Linked DNA regions of Homo sapiens. The protein of the gene in region 2 purifies or fractionates together with the protein of the main gene of each other region. This does not show direct contact. Each region holds a gene or a part of one and is shown on either strand. Other genes may lie near its edges.

Region 1 (7,671 bases), on a different chromosome or scaffold from region 2:
TGCCTATTTGTAGCCCAGGAAAGAAGACAAACTTCTCCCCATTTCTACTGTCAGTAGACTGAGGCTGGAAACCAGTATGCGGCCTCAGTGTCCTTTTCTAGTATACCACATACACAATAAAAACCCAGGCAGATACCAGGTGCCTAGCCTTTTCAGTCAAACATACACATTTTAGTTAAAGGATGAGAAGTTGTCAGTGAGAATTTGTACAGAGTTCACAGTAAGAAGGTGAACTACTACCACGACAAAAGCTCCCTAAAATCCAGCTTGAGACCCCAGGGTACTATTTAAATATACTTATCCCTCAGTATCCATAGAGGATTAGTTCTAGGACCCACTACAGATATCAAAATCCACAGATGCTCAAGTCCTTTATATAAAAATGGTGCAGCATTTGCATATAACCTACACTCGCCTCCAGTATCCTTTAAAGTCAGAGGACCTCAACTCCCAGGCCACAGACCGCTACGAACCCACTATGAATCTGTGGCCTGTTAGGAACCAGGCCGCACAGCAGAAAGTGAGTGACAGGCAAGCAAGCATTACCACCTGAGCTCCACCTCCTGTCAGATTGGTGGTGGCGTTAAATTCTCATAGGAGTGCGAACTCTACTGTGAACTATGCATGGAACTATGCATGCAAAGGATCTAGGTTGCCTGCTCCTTATGAGAATCTAATGCCTGATGATCTGAGATGGAACGGTTTCATCCCAAAACTATCCCCTCCCCAAGTTCATGAAAAAATTGTCATCCACGAAACTAGTCTCTAGTGCCAGACCGCTTCTTTAAATAGTCTCTAGATTACTTATAATACCGAATACAATGCTATGCATCACCTCATTCTCATGGATTCAATGTAGTTCTCGGCACACGGAAAATTCAGTTTTCCTTTTGCAATATTTTCAAATTTTTTTCCCCAATATTTTTGATCCAAGGTTGGTTGAATCCACAGATGCTGAACCCATGGCTATGGAGGGCTGAATGTATGTTGGATTACATGCTGGCAATCCCTTCTTCCAAAGTTAAATGAGGTCCAAGTTCTACCCAACTCTAAATTGTACTATATCTGAACCATCTAAGAATCCCTCATTTTACAGAGGAGAAAACTGAGGCCCAGAGAAAAGTAATTGTCTACAAGTTCTAGCACTGACAGTGGCAAGGGCACAAGAATGCTGTCCTCTCTGCACACCATGTCATGACCATGCCAGCTAGGAAATGCACTGGGCCATCTTCACCTCGGGGACCACACTTCACACAGCACTGTTCCTCTCCTTAATTGCTGATTTTAGAAAAAATGTCATTTTTATATGCATCTAATTGGTGGTAACTGGCATGACTCTGAAGTAGCCAATCTATGGAAGAGGTAATAATTGTCCTCTGACAACTGGCTCCCCGTTATTGGGCTCATAGCTATCTTTCTAAGCCAGCTGAATATGCTTAAGTACAAAGTTTTGACTTTCCAGAGGAAAACTTCTATTTCTTACCTTCTGCATCTGCAGATCAGATTTGGCCATTTCCGCAAAATAATCAGTGGGTCGCTTCGTAGGGACTTTGAGCTGATGGAGGCGGGGTAAGACTGCAAGCACTGCGGCCTGGGCTTGGCGATAGCTGAGAATCGTAGGACAAAATGTGTAATGAGGTGAAGGAGGAGGCCTTACGTTCCTTTTCACCGCCAATCATGAGTTATCCAAGCTCAGAAGGACTCTCAAAATCTGACCTCCATTAGCAAGAACAAACAAACAAAAACTGTCTCACTGATTTAGTATCTAAAAGAAATGTAGCCGTATACTAGTTTTTAAAAAGGGGAGGGGTGTTGCTAAAAATAGTTTAAGAGAATGACTACTCTAAAGGTACCCATTAACACAAACGAATGTCGATTATGGATTCTTATGTAATTACTAAAGCAATTCCACACAAGAACATCCCATAAGCAATGTTTGTTTGTTTGTTTTCCTAATAACTGAAGCATGCACAAAAAGTTTTAACATGAATATTTCAAATTAGCCCATAAAGTGGATTTTGGATCGTGACCGTGGACCAAAGAGCTCTTCTCTCAAACAGGAAGAATCTCCTAGCTATTCTTAGTCAAAAGAAGCCGCTCTCTCTACTCCTAGGCTTATTCTGAGTGCAGACTTACTAATTTCCCCTCTTTCCCACTCTCCTGCACAAGGATCCTCAACTTCTCCAACATTTGAAAACAAACATACAAACTCATCTCTCGCTGGAAGTCGTCTTCTGGATCAACAGCTTTCTGGTCCTTGTTCTGAGGTGCTGGCGCCTCAGATCCACCGATCTCCGGTACCGGACCCAGTGTCACATCGAGCCTTTCAACCCATTCCAGATCCCGCTTGAATTCTGCCAAACATTGCTTCAGGCCATTCTAGGAAATCCAGACACTGAGCTCACAAGAAGGGAACTCTGAGTTTGTCTTTCCCAAGCACAGGCTGTTAGGCGAAGGGACAAAGTGCTAATCCCCAATACCCAGACAGGTAATTGACCCTCTTGGCGAGGCGCAGGGTGCATCTTTCCTGGGACAAGAATCGGTCTCCCAAGCCCAACAGCGCCTGAAGCGCATCCCATGTCCGAGTACCCCCGACCCTGTGCCCACGCTCACCACGTCGTTCACGGCCTTCTTCGGCCCCTCTAGCACGACATTGAGGCCTGGCTTCAGAAGCCCTCGGGAAAACGCATCCTGCAACTGCAGGACACAATCACGGTCACTCCCAGGGGTGTAAGGCCCCCTCTCCCACGCCCAGCCCCACGAGCTCGGCTGACACCTACCTCTCTGTCTGTGACAAGGGATTCATCGGATTCCGACTCCGAATCCGAGAGCGGGGGAGTGTCCATCTCGCCGCACGCACGTCCCACACCTACAGGAAGAAACGGGGTATCCCGAGACCCAAGCGGCTAGCAGAGGGCGGCCCTGGCCGCTGCTGCCTGCCTTCAGCCCCCTACTCCCACGCCGTGGCTCCACGTGCCACCGAATCGCTCCAGCGCCAGCAACTCACAGCTACTGCTCAACTTTTGATTGGGACTTCCGCTTCCGGCGGCAAACCATACTTCCGGTTTGTCGTTGCTATAGGAACCGCTACGGCGTTTGAAAGTGTCCGGGTTGCTTAGGATCCCTACAGGTAGCGCCTCTGGATACATGCGTGGTCTGCTGACCCAGAGAGAAACGAAAGGTGGGAGGGGGTACCTGGGGGTCGCCAGAAGGAGCTGGTAGCAGTGAGGGTACAAAGGAAAAGGCAGAAAAAGGAGCCGCGGGGGTGGGGTGGCGCGGAGGAGGACCCCGGGGGAGGGGAAAGGGGAGGGACAAGGGGAGGGGAAAGGGGAGGGACAAGGGGAGGAGAAAGGGGAGAGACAAGGGGAGGAGCAAAGGGCGGGGAGGGCGAGTCCGGGCCGGGGGCGGGGTCGGAGCGGGGCGGTGCTCTCCACTCTGAAGCGCTGCCTTGGTCTTCAGCAGAACTGTTTGGCGGGAGATCATGTCAGCCGTGGTAGCTCAGACGCTGCATGTTTTTGGTCTTCGATCCCACGTGGCCAACAATATCTTCTACTTCGATGAACAGATCATTATATTTCCTTCAGGAAATCACTGTGTGAAGTACAATGTGGATCAGAAATGGCAAAAATTCATTCCAGGTAAAACTTTTTCCATCCTGACATATACAGGAATGGTATGTGCCACATATAACCCCATAATCCCAGCATGATGATTGGAAAGAAAGATTTTGGCCAATTTGAATATATATGCAGTATTATAAATGTAGAGGAAATAAATGGCGACTTGTATTATGAAACTAGATTAATCAGTCACGCATATGTAGTTAAAATCACATATAAAATGTTAATTTAAAAGTACTTTTTTCACTGTAATTTCATGAAAATATGTTAAGAACCCCTCTTTTGGTGTCTTCAATATCACTGCCTTTGTCATCACCAGAGCCACTTTTTGAGTTGTCTAACAGTTTTCCTGAGCACACCACCTTCATTATATCACCGTTTGAATCCAAGTATGATGAAGACACTGTAAACTTTATCCCAAGTCGCAAATAACCATTTGTATAGCATTACAGCCCTTATTTTTGTTCACAGTGGTCCTGTTAATGATATTCATTATTTCAACAACCGAATCCATTTTCCCATTCTTTGTTGCATTGACACCTTTTATTGTGACATATACATACAAAAGAATGTACCCTACATATATGTCATATTTAAAGAATTACAATAGAATGTAGATCTGTGAACCCAGCCACCCAGCATAGGAAACAGAATATTACCAGTTCTAGTGCTTCTCCCTGTATTCTGTGTCTTGCTGCATCAGTTCAATGTCATGCTTTTGAGATTCACACATCTCGATACATATAGCCAAGTTCATTTTATTGCTATGTAGTGTTCCATCATATGAATATAATGTCTCAAATATATGTATTCACTCTAATATTGAGGGACATTTGGGAAATAACAATCATTTGCTATTACAAACTATACTACTATAAACATTCTTGCATGCATATACATTCATCTATTTGTGCAGATTCTCTAGGGCACACAGCCAGGACTAAAATTACTGAGCAATATGATAGTACCAATTTACACTCCCACTAGAAGTGCATAAGAGTTCTTATTCCTCAGCAACCCTGCCAACCCTTGGTATTGTCCAACTTCGTAATTTTTTGCTAACCCAATGGTTGAGAAAAGGAATTGTGGTTTTCGTTTGCATTTTGCTATCATTAATGATGATGAGTATCTGTTTATGGGCTATTCCTATTTAGTCGTATGTTAAATGCCTTGTTCAAGTCTTTTACTTGTTTTTTACAGTTTGTTGTGCAGGATATTTTTGGGCAATTTTATTGATTTACATGCACAATTTATATATTCTGTATATCAATAATTTGTCAGATATATATATATGTCTTGCAAATAATTTCTTTCAGTTTGGGGCATTTTTCTCCCATCTTACAAGTATCTTTTGATGGACAAAAATTATTAGTTTTAATAAAGTCAAATTTATCAACCACATAATATTCTGTTGGAATAAGCTGTATTAAATACAGTTGACTTTAATTTATTGATGTTTATTTCCAGCATATTTGCTAAATTATTATTAATTCTAATGATTTGTCTATAGATTATGCAGAGACTTCTACATAGACTATCATGTTATCTACAAATAACGATGACTTTCTTCCTTTTTCTTGTGTTACCTGTGCTGGTAAGCACCTCCAGACAGTGTTGATTAGGGGCAATAAAAATGGACATCTGGCCAGGTGTGGTGGCTCATGCCTGTAATTCCAGCACTTTGGGAGGCCAAGGTGGGCAGATCACGAGGTCAAGAGATCAAGACCATCCTCGCCAACATAGTGAAACCCCGTCTCTACTAAAAATACAAAAATCAGCTGGGCGTGGTGGCACGTGCCTGTAGTCCCAGCTACTCGGGAGGCTGAAGCAGGAGAATTGCTTGAACCCGGGAGGCAGAGGTTGTGGTGAGCCAAGATCGCACCACTGCACTCCAGCCTGGGAAACCAAGCCAGACCCTGTCTCAAAAACAAAAATAAAAAAGATCATATGACTTTCCAATATAAATTAAATTATGGTTTTCTACAGACAACATTAATTTATATTTGCTCTCATACTTACCAAACTTTTTCCCACCATTACTCTTTACAAATCAGATATTCCAGCTGGGATCATTTTCCTTCTGCATTTACTGATAATGTATTAATAAATTCTCCCAGTTTTTGTCTGAAAATGACTTTATTTTATCCTCATTTCTGAAAGATAGTTTCAACAGGTGTGAAATTTTTATCAGCATATTATAGATCATATTCCATTGTGTTTTTTTGGCTTCTCTTTTGTTGCTGTGGTTAAGAAATTAGCTATCAGCATCGTCTTTCTGTAGATGATCTTTTTTTCTGGATGTTTAATATCTTCTCTGTCTATGGTGTGTGTGTGTATGTATCTATACACATACACCATATACATATATACGTATAAAATACACACCATATATACACACACCATATACTATATGTACATGTATATATACATAGTATATATACATACATATAGATACAGACACACACATCAGTATAGTTTTTATTTTCATTTTTTATCCTCCTAGGGATTATTTGAGATTCCTGGATCTAAGGACAGGTATCTTTTTTGTTCTGTTATCTCCTTCTGGAACTCCAAACCATCTCAACTCCATCCTTCCAGTTTTTTATTTTATTTTATTTTATTTATTTATTTTTTAAGAAACCAGGTCTCACTCTGTTGCCCAGGCTGGAGTGCACTGGCACAATCATAGCTCACAGCAGTCTCAAACTCCTGGGCTCAAGCCATCCTCCCCACCTTAACCTCCTGAATAGCTGGGAATACAGGCATGCACCACCTTGACCAGCTAATTGTTTTTATGGAGATGGGGTCTGGCTATGTTGCTGAGGCTGGTCTTGAACTCCTGAACTCAACTCATCCTCCCACCTCAGCCTCCCAAGTAGCTGGGATTACAGGTGCAAGCCACCACACCTGACGTTCATGTTTTTGGGTTTTTTTTTTTTTGAACTCTTATTTGGATTTTTTATACCTTACTCTCTCTGTGTTGCATTCTAGATAATTACTTTAGATGTATCTCGTAGTTCATTGCTTCTCTTTTCTGCTGCATCTAACTTAATGTTTAATGTATCCATTGAGATTTTACTTTCAGTTATTGTGCTCATATTCTTACACTTCTTACTGTATCACTTCTCTTCTGCTCCTAACTCCATCTTATATCACCAGGGGCCTTGTACACATGTGGGTGGATCCTTGCAGCCCATATGTTCAAATTCTACCCATATATTCTATAAGCAACCACCCTGTGCCCATCCTTCAGGCCCAGGTTGAGTAGAGACAGCCTGGGAAGAAACCCCCAATGTTGGTCTTGTCAGCAGGCTCAAGACTATCTGAGCAGGGAACTCCAGAGTCCTGGGTACCTGCAACGTGATCTAGAAGAGGCAGGACAAACTCCAGGCAGCCACTGTATCCCACTTAATGGTAAGGGGTACAGCCAGAGAAAGACTCCGGGATGCTCTAAAATTTGAGGCCCAAGGGAGGATCTCCACTGACCAAGTCTAAGGGTATTACCGGTGAAGGGAAAAATATAAAGGTCATGACATTGGGAGACCTGGCTTTGATCTGGCTCCCCATTTTATAGGCTCACAGAGCCTCAGTCTCCTCATCTGTAAGATGCAGATGATGCTCAGCTTGTTCAGCTCAGAGTCATGATGAGGCTCAACATATTCATTTGTTCACTCAACAAAAATGTATTAAGTACCCCCTGTGTTCCAGGCACAAAATAGACACGCACATATGCACATAAAATGCTGTCCTCACAGTGCTTCCATTCTAAGAGGGGAGAGTGACAAACAAAATAAAAAGAAGTACAGTCTACATGCTAGATAGTGATAGATGCTAATAAGAACAAACAAAGCATGGAAAGTGAAGCCGTTGGGGGAGTAAGAAGTTGTAGATAGGGAGGCTGGGGAGGGCTCACTGAGCAGTGATTTTTGAGTGAAGACTGAAGGAAAGGAAGGAGCTGGCTGTGCTGATGTGGGAGGGCAGGGGGAGTAGCCGAGAGACTAGCAAAGGCTCAGAGTTAGGAGGGTGCTTATTGTGTTGGAGGAATAGCTGG
Region 2 (7,020 bases):
CGTATATGGGATAGTACCAAACTGGTGCCTAAAAGCAGTGAAACCACCATTGGACTAATTGGAATGATTTGTCTATTGGCTGAAGATTTGACCACAGAGAGATTCTGCTTTTTTTTCCTTGCAGGGATGAAAAATTAAAAAAAAAAAAAAAGATTGGTTCCTTTTTCTCTTCCTAGCCTCCTGACAGTAAGTAGAGAGCCAGAAGAATGATGCCAAGGCATCCTGGCCTGCTATGTGGAGAACGCTCTTTCCTTACTGTCTCACTTAATAGAACTCCTGTTCTGGCAGTGTCAGATGCTGCAGCAGCAAGGGAATGCCATTGAGTGATTGCAGTAAGCTATGCAGCATTTTCATGTTTAAAACTACTGAGATAATAAAGTGAGAACTTGAGGCCACCAAATTTTAAGTTGTAATTAGAAGGATTTTGTTAATTAGGAATATGAGAGTGCTACAGTGATCACCTGGAATGGCTCCATAAATACAAATGAGGTGTTAACTAGTGAAGCAAGTTGCCAGTGTTTGTGTGTTTGGTGAGACTCCTAAGTTCTGCCATGAAGTTAAAGAAAATATTTTTTAAGATTCAAGAAAGCTGTGTGAATGAATTCAAAATTATTATGACTGTAGATCTTTTAAAAAGCTATCAGTATTAGTTTTACTTTGATTTTTATCTAAAGAGAAATACAGAATGAATACTTACAGCATTACAATTCAAATGTGCGTGGCTTTTTTTTTTCTTAGTTACTAGATATATAGTAGTAATACCTTTATGTAATATTTTGAAGTAGAGATTGAATTGGTATAATTCCCTACCTTAAAAATATTACACAATAGCATTTTTGTCATATATTACGATAGCATTTTTGTGTACTTTACCACTTAACTTTTTTTTTCCTTTTCTTTTTTTTTTGGAGACAAAGTCTTGCTCTGTCGCCCAGGCGGGAGTGCAATGGCAGGATCTCAGCTCACTGCAACCTCTGCCTCCTGGGTTTAAGCCATTCTCCTGCCTCAGCCTCCTGAGTAGCTGGGACTATAGGCGTGTGCCACCACGCCCGGCTAATTTTTGTTTTTTTAGTTTTTTTTGGAGACGGAGTCTCGCTTTGTCACCCACACTGGAGTGCAAATGGCATGATCTCGGCTCACTGCAGCCTCCACCTCCTGGGTTCAAGCGATTCTCTTGCCTCATGCACCACCACGCCCAGTTAATTTTTGTATATTTAGTAGAGATGGGGTGTCACTATGTTGGCCAGGCTGCCGACCTCAAGTGATCTTCCCTCCTCAGCCTCCCAAAGTGCTGGGATTACAGGCATGAGCCACTGCCCCTGGCCAGTGTCAGATGTTTAGTTTGTCATTAAAATGGAGCAAGAATACATAACTCGTGAGGTTGTAAGATTATAGATATGTTTACTAATGACTGACTCATAGATATCCAGCTGTTAAAACTCTTCAAGAAGTAATCAGGGCAGGCGGAAATGGATGTAATTAACCAAGGTCAAGCAGTAAGTTCAGGAACCAGGATAAAAATACAGAATTGCTCCCGAGTAAGTACTCTGTTTTCCATTATTCTGGCTGGAATGCAGGTAATACAGAAAGTATATTGCTTCCTTTCATTGCTTTTTTTTTCTTCTTTTTTTCCTTTGAGGTGGAGTTTCGCTCTTGTTGCCCAGGCTGGAGTGCGATGGCATGATCTCGGCTCACCGCAACCTCTGCCTCCCGGGTTCAAGCGATTCTCCTGCCTCAGCCTCCTGAGTATTTGGAACTACAGGCACGGGCCACCACACCCGGCCAATTTTGTGTTTTTAGTAGAGACGGGATTTCTCCATGTTGGTCAGGCTGGTCCTGAGCTCCCGACCTTTGGTGATCCACCCACCTCTGCCTCCCAAAGTGCTGGGATTACAGGTGTGAGCCAGCACACCCGGCCCCCATAGTTCGTTTTTATTAAAAGAATCTGGGCCATCCTGGCTAACACGGTGAAACCCCCGTCTCTACTAAAAATACAAAAAAAAAGTAGCCAGGCGTCGTGGTGGGCACCTGTAGTCCCAGCTACTCGAGAGGTTGAGGCAGGAGAATGGGGTGAACCTGGGAGGTGGAGCTTGCAGTGAGCCGAGATCGTGCCACTGCACTCCAGCCTGGGCGAAGCAAGACTCCGTCTCAAAAAAAAAAAAAATCTGAAGTGTTTCAGTACCATGTTGGGACAGTAAACTGACTTAACGGAGCATAATAATGTGCATACTTACATACATTCAGAGGGCAAAAGCTCCAGTATGGTCTAAATGCAGTTAAGTGAACAACATGAATGAGTCAGGGATAACCCTGAGCTTGCGAAAAGTAAGCATATATACAAATGTGAATGTGTACAGCTGTGTTAGAAAACCATATAAAATAATAAAGATAGCCAGAATCATACCCTACTTTGCTAGTGTCATTTTTATCTCCAACTTGCCTGTTGCTACTTTATTTTAAATGTATTTTCTAGGACAGAGTTATGAACATTCTATTTATTAGAACCCTAGTTGTTAGTCTTGACCACATACTGTTAGATTTTAGTAGTTTACTATATTTGTTTTTAGTATCAATAGTATGGTACAAGTACTGACATTAAGGAAGACAAATTAGTATACTAACCATTTGTGGTTTCTTTAATTCCAAGATAAGTTCAAAATGTGTAAAATAGTTACACCTCTTAGTTTAGCATACATGGCTCCTCACAGTAAATCTTAAGTCTTGTCAGACCTTATTTTTTTTTTTTTTTTTTTTTGAGACAGAGTCTTGCTCTGTTGCCCAGGCTGGAGTGCAGTGGTGCGATCTTGGCTCACTGCAACCTCTGCCTCCTGGGTTCAAGCAATTCTTGTGCGTCAGCCTCCTGAGTAGCTGGGATTACAGGCATGCACCACCATGTCCAGCTAATTTTTGTATTTTTAGTAGAGACAGGGTTTCACCATGTTGGCTAGCTGGTCTCGAACTCCTGACCTCAGGTGATGCATCTGCCTCGGCCTCCCAAAATGCTGGGATTAGAGGTGTGGGCCACCCCGCCCGGCCCAGACCTTATCTTGACTATCTTAGTCATTTCTTCTCTTGCCTGACATGCCCTGTGCTCCTACCACCCTTTAAAGTGGTTTGTGTCATAAACATTTGATACACAAAAATGGAAACTTAGGACAAATATCTTGATGTCTGGTGGTTGAAAATGTGAACTGATTTGGAAATCACCGGTGTTTCTCCTCTTAATCTCTTCTCCATTCCATTCAGGAAATAGACTGTAAGGTGGGAAACAAGTATAAGCAGTTAGCCTCACTCTAAACCTGCTATGTAATAGACATTGGACTGAGTTCTGTCTACTCTCTGTAAGCAATCCAAGGTAATTGGCGAAAGTGGAAGGAATATGTACTCAGAAGACCAAAACTTTGGTTTTTAAATTGAATATCTATTAAGCACAAGGTAACAATTCTTACCACACACATCAGTTTTATTATTTCCCTTTTACAAATAAGACACAGATGGGTAGTCAGATGTCTTTGAGGTAACACAGCAAGTAGTTAAACTGGGTTAAGTGATTAACCCAGGTTGAGTATGGTTCCAAAATCTCTTACAGTGTCAGGCAGGCTACATCAGTGCAGTATACGTACATCAGGTTTCACGAAAAATTTTTTCCAGAGAAAACACAAACCCAAGGAACCTTCAGTAAGTGGTGCCTTATATTAGTGGTTTTTAGCAAAAGGAAGAAACTTAAGTGTTTTCCTGCTGCCTGACAAAAGTGAAAAACAGTATTTTGGTTTTTATTGAAGTTAGCATGTATGTTTGTAGCTTGCATAAAATAGTACTGAAATCCAATTGATTATGAATTCTTGGACTAACAGAACCTGGATGACAAATTAGAGGTTCTGGCCTGGTTGCTGGCTTTTTTAGTTGTCTTGGGTGTAAATTTCTCAGCCACACGTGGGGATTGTGTTAGATAATCTGAAATCTAATTTTCATGGTTTTATGATTCAGCAGCTTTCTTCCTTTGATATTTTCTAGTATTTGCTTTATTATAGATTGGAATCCTCAAAATAACATTGACAAGTAGAAGATACTTCTGTTAGTGGATTTAAAAAAAAATTACATTGGGAATGTCCTTTGAGTGGTTGGCCCTAATCCCTGTCAGAAGCTGAAAGTTGTGGATCCTAAATTCATCTGGGCAGAATCTCACCTATGATTTCAGAAAGCTGAGAGTTTCAGAGAGTGACTGTAGTCAGTCCTTAGTGAGTACAAAATTGAGAATACATCATTACTTTAAATTAATGGTGCAGTAACTCTTGTGACTGATAGCAATAATTTAGGTGCTTTGTTGTTAGTACTTGATTAGATTGGATTGGGTCAGTTAGTTTCACCAAATTGCTAAAGACACCTGTCCCCCTAGAATTAAAATACTGAGTTACATAATGGCTACTAAAAGGATAACTATATGGGGTGTTCGATGATTCAAAGGTGAATTACTTGGTCTCTACCTTCAAGGAATATGATACAAGGCAATATGGTACTGCCATTAGACAGATATTAACAAAGTGTCTTGGGACTTAATAGGGAGGGTAGTTCCAGGCTGGGAGATGTAGTCAGATTCTTTTATAGAGTTGGCATTTGAGTTGGCCCGTGAAGGTTGGAAAAAGTTGTGACAGGTGGAAAAGGAGCAGGGGAGACCAGGACAGTGCAGTGAAATTCCAGCCAGGAGCAGTCACAGGCAATGAGACAGACTCATGGAGCCATGATTCTCAGCTGTCTTACCTTACCTTAGTTTTCCTAAGGAATATCATGGAATTCTGTAAAGACCTTTAAACTAAATAATGTTCATATGAGATGAGTGCTAGGATGGGGACCTGCTGCCTAATATAAGTAGTGTGAGTCTAAAACATTGTGGAAAGTGGTTAGTTTAATAATGTTATTAAAGAGACAAGTCTATCACAAGGGACCAGTTACCAGTGAAACTGTAGACCACCTGATTCACTGCGATAGGGTTAGCCAAAGGGAGGAGAGGGCAGATTGCATACATAGTACCTAAGGCCACTCAAAGACCTCTTTTAAAATCACGTGTCATGTTGATGACATTTGGAGGCTATTAATGTTTTTCTTCCCTTTTAAGACTTAGTGTTTTCTTTATTAGCATTAATTTACTCTAGTAAACAAAATTATGTGTGACTAAAAATGGCAAAACAGGCTGGGCGCAGTGGCTCACGCCTGTAATCCTAACACTTTGGGAGGCCAAGGCGGGTGGATCACTAGGTCAGGAGATCGAGACCATCCTGGCCAACATGGTGAAACCCCGTCTCTACTAAAATACAAAAAATTACCTGGGCGTGGTGGTGCACGCCTGTAGTCCCAGCTATGTGGGAGGCTGAGGCAGGGGAATCGCTTGAACCCAGGAGGTGAAGGTTGCAGTGAGCCAAGATGGCGCCACCGCACTCCAGCCTGGTGACAGAGCGAGACTGTCTCAAAAAAAAAAAAAAAAAAGCAAAACATCTAAAACTTCTGTTATATTCTAGTGTGTAAAGTTCTGCCTTTGCCACTGAGATGCATATCTGTTTTACAGAATAGTTTTTTTTCTTTCTTTCTTTCTTTGAAGACGGAGTCTTGCTCTGTCACCCAGGTTGGAGTGTGGTGGCCCAGTCTCAGCTCACTGCAACCTCCACCTCCCGGGTTCAAGCGATTCTCCTGCCTCAGCCTCTCGAGTAGCTAGGACTACAGGCGCGTTACCACCACGCCTGGGTAATTTTTTTATTTTAGTAGATTTGGGGTTTCACCATGTTGGCCAGGATGGTCTTGATTTCCTGACCTCATGATCCGCCTGCCTCCCAAAGTGCTGAGATTACAGGCGTGAGCCACCACGCCTGCCCTAATTTTGTGTTTTTAGTAGAGATGGAGTTTCACTGTGTTGGTCAGGCTGATGTCCAACTCCTGACCTCAGGTGATCCTCCTGCCTTGGCGTCCCAAAGTGCTGGGATTACAGGTGTGAGCCACTGTGCCCATCCTTGTTTTGTATTTTCTAAAAGAGATGTATCTTGTTTAAATATTAAATTATAAGATATTCAGGCCTTGCAAATTGTCTGGATTACACTGTAAAAGTAATCATTTATGTGCAAATAATTCCTTGAGATCAATAGTTAAATGAGCTCAAGCTGATCTGACTAAATTGGAGAAGATACAAAATGAAGATGGGGAGGAAGTGGTGCCATAAGCAGCCTTTTTTCTTTGACCATTTTATATGCCTTTTTTTTTTTTTTTTTGAGATGGAGTTTCACTCTTGTAACCCACGTTGGAGTGCAATTGCTTGGCTTGCAACAACCTCCACCTCCCGGGTTCAAGAGATTATCCTGCCTCCGCCTCCTGAGTAGCTGGGATTATAGGCATGAGCCACCAAGCCTGGCTAATTTTGCATTTTTAGTAGAGACGGGGTTTCTCCTTCTTGGTGAGGCTGGTCTCGAACTCCCAACCTCAGGTGAACCATCCTCGTCGGCCTCCCAAAGTGCTGGGATTACAGGTGTGAGCCACCGTGCCCTGCCCGCCATTCGTTTTTTTTTTTTTTTTTTTTTTTTTAATTCTGACTCTTCTGTGGTGGAAACCAGCAAATACTTCACATAATTTAGGATGCTAATACTAGTACAGTTAAAAGAATGATTACAAAGCAGATACTATTTCAAATTCTGTAAAAATCTGTTTTTAATATCCTTCACTGGCTGTTTGTTCTGACTAGAAATGTTTTGTATATCTGAAAGCACCAGTAACTCATAGCCATATAATTTTTTTGGTAATATGTTCATAGGCAAGTGGCAAGAGTTAGTAGAAAGATTTCTCTAAGAATTTATCCTAAATCAGATTACACAGAGTTGGGGTAAGTGAGTATTGTGTTATTTTCTTTTGTATATTTGACAATGGGAACTTTTTGAAACTCAACTTCAGTGTAATTTTAAGTCACTAAATTTGTCCACAAGTTAATGATTAAACAGTTACTGAAAGTGGAGAACCTTGCCATTTTTCGGACTGCGTTTTGGG

What was found. Proteins that work in one complex are often made in the same cells at the same time.
Region 1: the proteins of CNBP (region 2) and EBNA1BP2 purify together in Homo sapiens (affinity purification with mass spectrometry; 3 studies listed by BioGRID and IntAct, with this or other methods). This does not show direct contact.

The regions. Positions count from the first base shown.
Region 1 is NC_000001.11:43,169,273-43,176,943, forward strand, and holds the start of EBNA1BP2 (probable rRNA-processing protein EBP2), read right to left. Parts: upstream 3,008-7,671; 5' UTR 2,870-3,007; coding exon of another isoform or gene 2,847-2,869; coding exon 2,781-2,846; intron 2,698-2,780; coding exon 2,614-2,697; intron 2,441-2,613; exon of another isoform or gene 2,380-2,440; coding exon 2,207-2,379; intron 1,608-2,206; coding exon 1,484-1,607; intron 1-1,483. Other genes in the region: CFAP57 (cilia- and flagella-associated protein 57), read left to right, coding at 3,482-3,638. UniProt on the Homo sapiens protein: Required for the processing of the 27S pre-rRNA.
Region 2 is NC_000003.12:129,173,894-129,180,913, reverse strand, and holds part of CNBP (CCHC-type zinc finger nucleic acid binding protein), read left to right. Parts: intron 1-7,020. UniProt on the Homo sapiens protein: Single-stranded DNA-binding protein that preferentially binds to the sterol regulatory element (SRE) sequence 5'-GTGCGGTG-3', and thereby mediates transcriptional repression. Has a role as transactivator of the Myc promoter.